2 separate regions of the Homo sapiens genome follow, and region 1 is linked to region 2. Evidence: fine-mapped expression QTL. A gene starts in region 2. The other region holds a variant in brackets. All regions are shown on one strand. Distances are between the middles of the regions.

Region 1 (4,395 bases), 120 kb before region 2:
TGAGGAATTGAAATGTGGCTGGTTTGAGGTATACTATGAGTATAAAACATATGCCAGACTGTGAAAATTTACTACAAAAAAGTATAAAGTATCTCATTGTAAAAATGCTGGTTATATGATATAATATGTTGGATATATTAGGTTAAATACATATATTACTAAAATTAATTTTACCTGTTTGTATTAGGAAGTTCCTATATTGCTATAAATAAATACTTGAGTGGGTAATTTATAAACAAAAGAGGTTCAATTGGCTCCTGGTTCAGTAGGCTGTACAAGCATGGTGCTGGCACCTCCTTGGCTTCTGGGGAGGCCTCAGTGAGCTCTTACTCATGGTGAAAGACGAAGTAGGAGAAGGCACATCACATGGTGAAACAAGGAGAGAGAGTGTGGAGGAGGTGCCACATATTACAACGATCAGATTTTGTAAGAATCACTCCCTATTGCTAAGACACCACCAAGGGAATGGTGCTAAGCCATTCATGAGAAACCCACCCCCATGATCCAATCACCTCCCACAGACCCCACCTCCAACACTGAGGATGAAATTTCAACATGAGATTTGGTGAGAAATCCACCCCCATGATCCAATCACCTCCCACCAGACCCCACCTCCAACACTGAGGATTAATTTCAACATGAGATTTGGTGAGAAACCCACCCCCATGATCCAATCACCTCCCACAGACCCCACCTCCAACACTGAGGATGAAATTTCAACATGAGATTTGGTGAGAAATCCACCCCCATGATCCAATCACCTCCCACAGACCCCACCTCCAACACTGAGGATTAAATTTCAACATGAGATTTGGTGAGAAATCCACCCCCATGATCCAATCACCTCCCACAGACCCCACCTCCAACACTGAGGATTAAATTTCAACATGAGATTTGGTGAGAAACCCACCCCCATGATCCAATCACCTCCCACAGACCCCACCTCCAACACTGAGGATTAAATTTCAACATGAGATTTGGTGAGAAATCCACCCCCATGATCCAATCACCTCCCACAGACCCCACCTCCAACACTGAGGATTAAATTTCAACATGAGATTTGGTGAGAAATCCACCCCCATGATCCAATCACCTCCCACAGACCCCACCTCCAACACTGAGGATTAAATTTCAACATGAGATTTGGTGAGAAACCCACCCCCATGATCCAATCACCTCCCACAGACCCCACCTCCAACACTGAGTATTAAATTTCAACATGAGATTTGGTGAGAAATCCACCCCCATGATCCAATCACCTCCCACAGACCCCACCTCCAACACTGAGGATTAAATTTCAACATGAGATTTGGTGAGAAATCCACCCCCATGATCCAATCACCTCCCACCAGGCCCCACCTCCAACACTGAGGATTAAATTTCAACATGAGATTTGGTGAGAAATCCACCCCCATGATCCAATCACCTCCCACCAGACCCCACCTCCAACACTGAGGATTAAATTTCAACATGAGATTTGGTGAGAAATCCACCCCCATGATCCAATCACCTCCCACAGACCCCACCTCCAACACTGAGGATTAAATTTCAACATGAGATTTGGTGAGAAATCCACCCCCATGATCCAATCACCTCCCACCAGGCCCCACCTCCAACACTGAGGATTAAATTTCAACATGAGATTTGGTGAGAAATCCACCCCCATGATCCAATCACCTCCCACCAGGCCCCACCTCCAACACTGAGGATTAAATTTCAACATGAGATTTGGTGAGAAATCCACCCCCATGATCCAATCACCTCCCACCAGACCCCACCTCCAACACTGAGGATTAAATTTCAACATGAGATTTGGTGAGAAATCCACCCCCATGATCCAATCACCTCCCACCAGACCCCACCTCCAACACTGAGGATTAAATTTCAACATGAGATTTGGTGAGAAATCCACCCCCATGATCCAATCACCTCCCACAGACCCCACCTCCAACACTGAGGATTAAATTTCAACATGAGATTTGGTGAGAAATCCACCCCCATGATCCAATCACCTCCCACAGACCCCACCTCCAACACTGAGGATTAAATTTCAACATGAGATTTGGTGGGGACACAGATCCAAACCATATCACTGGTTTTAGATTTTTATTTGAATGTGGATACTAAAGATTTTTTCAGTACATATGT[G/A]GCTCACATTATATTTCTATTTCATAGGTGTGCTTTAAAGGCAGACATTACTGAATTAACTGAGGTGTTTTTCATTTAACTGCATAATCTTGTGACACACTTGTTAACTCTATTACCATAAGCATATTATCTTGAAAATATAGATAATAATCACGTACCTCACAAGGTTTTCATGAGAATTAGAAATAATGTGCGAGATTTCTGGCACATGCTATGACCTCTAATCTGCCATTCCAGTATTCAAAAAGCTGAGAACCAAAGTCTTCTTTCCTTTTTTCTTTTCCTTTTTGAATACATATTTGGAGTGAAACCCCATCTGAAATGCAATGAGGCTATTCATAGCCTCCATTTATTGCTCTTAGGAAGTCTAGTCTTTGCAGCTATCTCAATGTGTTTGATTTTGGGGTACTGCTCCAGCCCCTGCTGGGTATGTTATGCCACACATAGTATATGACCTGTTCACCTTTCTAAAATCTGCACCATTCTGAATTCTGAAACACATCTTGCTCCAAGGGTTCTAGAGAAAGCTTTGTGGACCTGCAGTTGCTTAATAACTGGTAGTAGCTACCATTATAATTATTATTAGTAGAAGTTCCAGAAAACAACCAGACAAAATAAGGAATTAACACAGGAAGATAATGGAAATGTTTATAGTGAAGCTAGCAGCATCAGCAAAACAAGAAACCCAAGATTCCTCCTATAGTCCTTCCCACCCCACATCCCATTAAGTCACATCAGTTAAGCTGCTTCTCCCTCTCACATTTTCCTAAAACTCTTAGCTTCCCTTCCTTTTCCTTTGTACCTTCCTTTGTTCCTTCCTGTGTGGAATACTAACATATCCCCTCAGCCCATCTCCCCATCTTCAATGTGGAAATCCTTAAACCACACCAGACACCAAAATTAATCCCAGGTAAATTAGTTCAATATAAAGTACAAAATCATTACAAACTAAAATAATATGAAATCTACCCCAAATTCTTTCTAACTATGGAAATAAAAAGAAAAATTATAATGTGAATGCCAATACTTCCAATCACACAAAAATGAAAAAAACTTTCATATAACCAAGTAGAAAAATAAGAGGTAAATAAAATAAAAAGACTTAGGAAAGAATGGGGAAATATTTGAAGTCAAATGTAATGTCATATGGTTAATGTATTTTCTATATGAAAGCTTACTATACAAGCAGAAAATAAAAAAGTCACTGCTAGATAAAAGGGGAAAGATCACGAAAAAACAATTCACGAGAATAAGTAAAAACAGAAAACAAATGCTAGTAAATCTACAAGAAAGATTTATGGCCTATCCAGTATGGGTAAACCAATATGGATATCCAGTCTATCCACAAGGGCTCAAGAAACAAACTGGTACTTGGGAGGCTGAGGCAGGAGGACTGCTTGAGCCCAGGAGTTTAAGGTTGCAGTGAGCCATGACTGCACCACTACACTCCAGCCTGGGTAACAGAAGACCCTGTCCCTGTCTCCTTAAAAAAAAACAAACAAACATGGTGACTCACACCTTTAATCCTAGCACTTTGGGAGGCCGAGGTGGGTGGATCACAAGGTCAGGAGTTCAAGACTATCCTGACCAACATGGTGAAACCCCATCTCTACTAAAAACACAAAAATTAGCTGGGTATGGTGATGTGTGCCTGTAATCCCGGCTACTCAGGAGGCTGGGGCAGGAGAATTGCATGAACCCAGGAGGCGGAGGTTGCAGTGAGCTGAGATGGTGCCACTGCACTCCAGCCTAGGTGACAGAGGGAGACTCTATCTCAAAAAACAAACAAAACAACTAAAAAGGAGAAAGTGGAAGAGCCAGATGGCCAAATAGAGCCCTCCAGCGATTGCCCCCTCTGCAGTAACGCCAAATTGAACAACTATCCACATAAGAAAACACCTTCATAGGAACCAAAAATTAGGTGAGCAATCAAAGTATCAAGTTTTAACATCGTATTCAAAGAAAGAGGCACTGAGGAGGGTAGAAAAGACAGTCATCATATGCCTGCACCACCCCTCCCCCAATGCCTGGCAGTGCAGCATGGCAACAAGAGAGAATCTATGTGTTTGGAGGAGGAAGAATGGAGTGATGGTGGGACTCTGCATTGGAACTCAGTGCTGCCCTGTCACAGCAGAAAGCAACGTGGGGCAGAATTTGGCCAGCACCCCCAGAGGAAGCATTTAAATCAGCTCTAGCCTAAGAATTGTCCACCACAGTGGTGGAAACTTGAGTTCCAGCAAGTACCCC
Region 2 (4,395 bases):
TAAAGATGGGGTCTCACTATGTTGCCCAGGCTGGTCTCAATCTCCTGGGCTCAAGCAATCCTCCCACTTTGGCCCCCCAAAGTGCTGGTATGTATCACAGGCATGAGCCACCACACTGGCCTGGTGTCCTGTCATTAATTTTAGAAAATTCTCAGTCATTATTCAAATATTTTCTCTCCTTTCTCTCTTCCCCTCCTGGTATTCCAGTTACGCATATATTTCACCTTCTGTAATTGTCCCATGGTTCTTGGATATTCTGTTCTTTTTCTTTTTTCATTCTTTTTTTTTCCTCTTTGTATTTCAGTTTGGGAAATTTCTATTAACATATCTTCAAGCTCACCCATTCATTTCTCAGAGTGTCTTAGTCTGAGGGGCTCACTAAAGGTAATCTTCATGTCTGTTACAATGGTTTTCAATTGCTAGGATTTCCTTTTGATTCCTTCTTACAGTTTGCATCTCTCTGCTTACATTACCCATCTGTTCTTGCATGTTGTCTACTTTTTCCAAGATGCTTCTCCTTCTGTGGGCTTCCCTAAGAACTCCTTCTTAAATAGAGTCTGTGCCTTGCAGTTTTCTCTGTTGTAATCTACTGTTATTGACCAGAGCCCCATTAGTGTGGCAGTGAGGTACAGTGGGGAGGGAAGCATTCTATAATCTTATTATTAAATACTATTTTTCTAGTGGGCTTGAGGCCTTGGACTGTGATCTTCAGAAGCACTTCTTAGCCTTTCAAAAATCCTGCCTTACTGAGACAGACAGGCTATAGAGGGACTGGAGCTGGCCAATTGCCTCTCCCCAAGGTCCAACAAGACTCTAGTAAGTAGTTTTTCTTGGAGTGCAGGTGTTTATTATGGAAAATGTGGTGCTTACTTTTCTCCTCCCCTTGCCCAAAAACCTGAGATTTTTCCCCATTCTTCACTGAGAGAATTTGATAGGGTTTCTGGAGGTAAAATTCACGAAAGTGTGGGGGCCCATCTAAGATTGGGCCCCTAGGAGTTTTTAACTCACAAGTTAGCCCACACTAAGCCTCCAGCAATTCATCAAAATTATAAAAAATAAAAGTTTTTACCAGTTTATAACTCCAGTGGCTTCTGCTTCAAGTAAGCTAATCTTGGCTGTAATTTTATGTATTTTTCTTTCTCGGGATTTTGGGGTGTCAGTTACCTTTCTATCTTCAGTTCTCTGATGGATCTAAGAAAAGTTGATTTTCAGTTTGTTGAATGATTTTGTTGTTGTGAAGATGGGAATGAAGGCTTCCGAGCTCTTTATATGCCAGAGCTAAAATGAGAATATTATCATTTTCATCCAACTCAAATAACCACAAACGTTACAAGCTCTAAGATGATATTTGCTGTTTCATAGTTAAAGTATCTTCACAGCTAGACTTGGCTTTATTATGTTGTTTATGATGTCTGACATAAATTGGATCCAGGAGAGTCCAGTCTAGATGTCACTGTGTGGCCTTGGGTGATTGAGTGTGACTGGGAGGGTGAGTTAGTTTCTGGTGAGCCAGTATCTATGATGCTGTATCTTGGTCAGCTGGGGCTGCTATAACAAAATATCATAGACTAAGTGACTTGACTAAGAGACTTTATTTTTCACAATTCTGGAGGCTGGGAAGTTAAAGTGCTGGCACATTCAGTTCTTGGTGAGGGCCCCGTTGGCTTGCAAATGGGTTACATCCTGCTGTGTCCTCACATGGCCTTTGCTTGGTGGTTGTGTAAACATGGAGACCCCTCCTTCCTCTTTTTTAATAAGTGCACTGACCCCATCATAAGGGTATCACCCTTATGACCTAATCTAAAACCAGTTACCTCCCCAAAGTCCCACCTCCTAACGTCATCACACTAGGGGTTAGGGTTTCACCATAGTAATTTTGGGAGGACATATTCAGCCTATAACATGTTGTGTCATGGTGAGACTGGCAATGCTAGATTTCGTGATTTCCTAAAAAATAAAATAAAAATAAAAAACTAAGCACCTACTATGTGCTGTTTTAGTCACTGAGAATATAACCCTGAACAGGACGGAAGCTGTGTGCCTTCTTGGAACCCTCCTTCCAGCAGGGAGAGATAAAATGGGGTGGGGGGAGGTGAGGGGCGTACCGTATATCAGAGAGCAGTAACTAGTAGGCATGAAATAAAACAGGTTCCACACGCGCACCATCAGAAAGTCACAAGTGTGCAAAGCAGACAAATCCCAATCTCCTCACTTTTCTATCGCGTAGGCCCCGCCCGCGCCCCAAGCCCCGCCCTGTCATGGTTTTCCTCTCCAGAGGGTAGCCGCTACGCCTTACCGACTGCGTTTCAGTGCTGTCCCACTGCTCCTGCACACCCCACGCCTGCGACCCTACCCACCACGGACAGGCGCTCCTGCGAGCTGGAAGCCAGTTCTCTGCGTCCTGAGCCTGGCAGCTGCATCTGAACACTCGGAGCCTGGCGATGGCTTCCAGAAACCCCTGCGCCGTGGGTCGCTTCAGTGAAGGGGCCTGTACTTCGGCGACCCAGACTCCGGGCTGAGAGGCCTCCTAATCCAACCAGGAGGACCAGGAGAGGCCCAAAAGGGGACACAGGGCAGTGACCGCCAGGCTTGGAGAGGAGCCGCTCCTGGCAAAGCCAGCGCCCTATTTCTGAACGCCGCCTCCGTTCCGGACTACACTTCCCAGGGGCTATTGCAGCGGAGGACACGCCCACTTCCGGAAAGGACCCAAAGCCGGGCGAGTGCACGTCCCGCCGGTTGCTGAGGAGAAGGGAGGTCTGGGCGGGGCAGCGGCCGAGGCTGGACTGGGGCGCGGCGGGGGCGGTGTCCTGGTTCCTGTGTGGGCGGCGGGCGTGAGCGTGCGCGTGTGGCCTGGTGGCTGTGAGTGCCCATACGTGGTGAGCGTGCGGTGCTGTGCTGAGGAGGGGCGAGCGCGCGCGGGGATGGCGGCCCGGTGTGTGACTGTCCGGTGCGTGGCCGCGAATCTGCGCCTGCGTGCATGGCCCGGCGGCGTGCGGAAGGCGGTGTGTGTTGGAATGAGTGAAGCACTTTAAGTGGCCAAGAGCAGGAAACCCGGCCGGAGGAGGCTTACCCCGTTCTCCCCTGTATCGACTGCGTAGAGCCCAGTGTGGGCAAAGTCCTAGAGCCCGGGGAAGTTGCCCGGGCGGGGCAGCCTCGGCTGAAGCATTTCCTGTCAGCCCTATCTGGAAGGGGCAGAGCCCAGGACAGGGCTCCATGTCCACAGGACGGCGAGGAGCGAAGACCATGGGGACTGAGTACACAGGTAAGAGTGACAGATGACGGATGTGGCTGCCGGAGTGGACATTGAGGTTTTGGGTGCTGTCTTTCGGGGTTCAGGTGCTGGAGGAGGATGTCCCCCGTTTCTAAGGCTAGTGGACCTGGAAGTCGAAAGATTTGGAGGGTCACCTTGGGTCAGAGTGGAGCTGGGTTTAGTTAGGGAGGGACCTTGACTTGGCCAGAGACACCTAACCAGATAACCTGACTCAGGTCCTTGGTATATCACTAAGGGCCCATGGGAGAGAACACTACCCGTAATATTACCCATTATAGCATTACTTCTGGGTACTCTGCTGCTGTTGAAGGAATAGCTCAGCATTTAGATTTTTACCCGTCAGAGCCTTGTCCCATCTATCACTGTAGGATTTGGGAAGAAGGCGAGATTCACAGCTTCACCCAGAAATGCCGAGGCATTCCAGCCTTTCTATGGCTTAATCACGTTCTAGTCAATAACGGAAGATATCCCCATTCCTTGGGCTTCTCTCCCTCCCCTCTGGCCTCCCACTCCAATAAAGAGAAAGGGGGAGGAAGGGCTATTTTTAGCCATATTGTTCTGTGCTTGTTTAGTTTCCTGCATGCTATAGTAATAGCTAATGTTTAATGAGTGTTTATTATGTGCCAGACACAGTTCTAAGACCTTTTGGGAGTATCAGCACCAAACTTCACAACATTATGAAGTAGGAACTACTTACCTCTTTTTTACAGATGAAGACACAGAAGCATAGAGAGGATAAGTAATCACTAGCAAGTGGAAGAACCGGGATTCAGATCCAGAACAGGCTGACTCCAGAGTCACTGGCTGTCATGTAGTTTCCTCAACTACTGCCTCAGGTAGGTTTCTTAGCCACTTTTGACAATTAAAGAAACTGACTCTGAAAGGGTTAAATAACTAAATAGTTCATATGCCAGAACCTCCACTGAGCAGGTTTGGGGTTTTTTTCTTAAAAAGTTTATGACTCTAAGTTCTTAGGTAAAATGGAGATGGTAATATTATATACCTCACAGTACTGTCATAAGGATTAAATGACCTCATACATGTAAAGCACTTGGTATAGTCCCTGCCATGTAATGTGTTCATTTTTATCATCATTATGATAATCCTTTGAGAAGGCAGTGGAA

The links. PIP is the estimated chance that this variant, and not a neighbour inherited with it, causes the effect.
Region 1: its variant is the best candidate, but not a certain one, in a credible set for the expression of ZNF470 in esophagus mucosa (GTEx, PIP 0.51).

Annotation. Positions count from the first base shown.
Region 1 is chr19:56,443,957-56,448,351 of GRCh38, forward strand. All of the region lies in intron 6 of ZNF667 (zinc finger protein 667), which reads right to left. Among named protein-coding and RNA genes, the nearest start is that of ZNF667, 31 kb to the right of the region's middle. The variant G/A (reference allele first, on the strand shown) is at 2,149.
Region 2 is chr19:56,564,777-56,569,171 of GRCh38, forward strand. ZNF470 (zinc finger protein 470) reads left to right here and starts at 2,692. Exons shown (of 6, transcript NM_001001668.4): 1 at 2,692-3,262; 2 at 3,982-4,107. ZNF470-DT (ZNF470 divergent transcript) reads right to left here and starts at 3,245. Exons shown (of 2, transcript XM_047439806.1): 1 at 2,297-3,245. The coding sequence starts at 3,245. The coding sequence ends at 2,307. RefSeq lists enhancers at 2,372-2,421, 2,432-2,641, 3,022-3,131.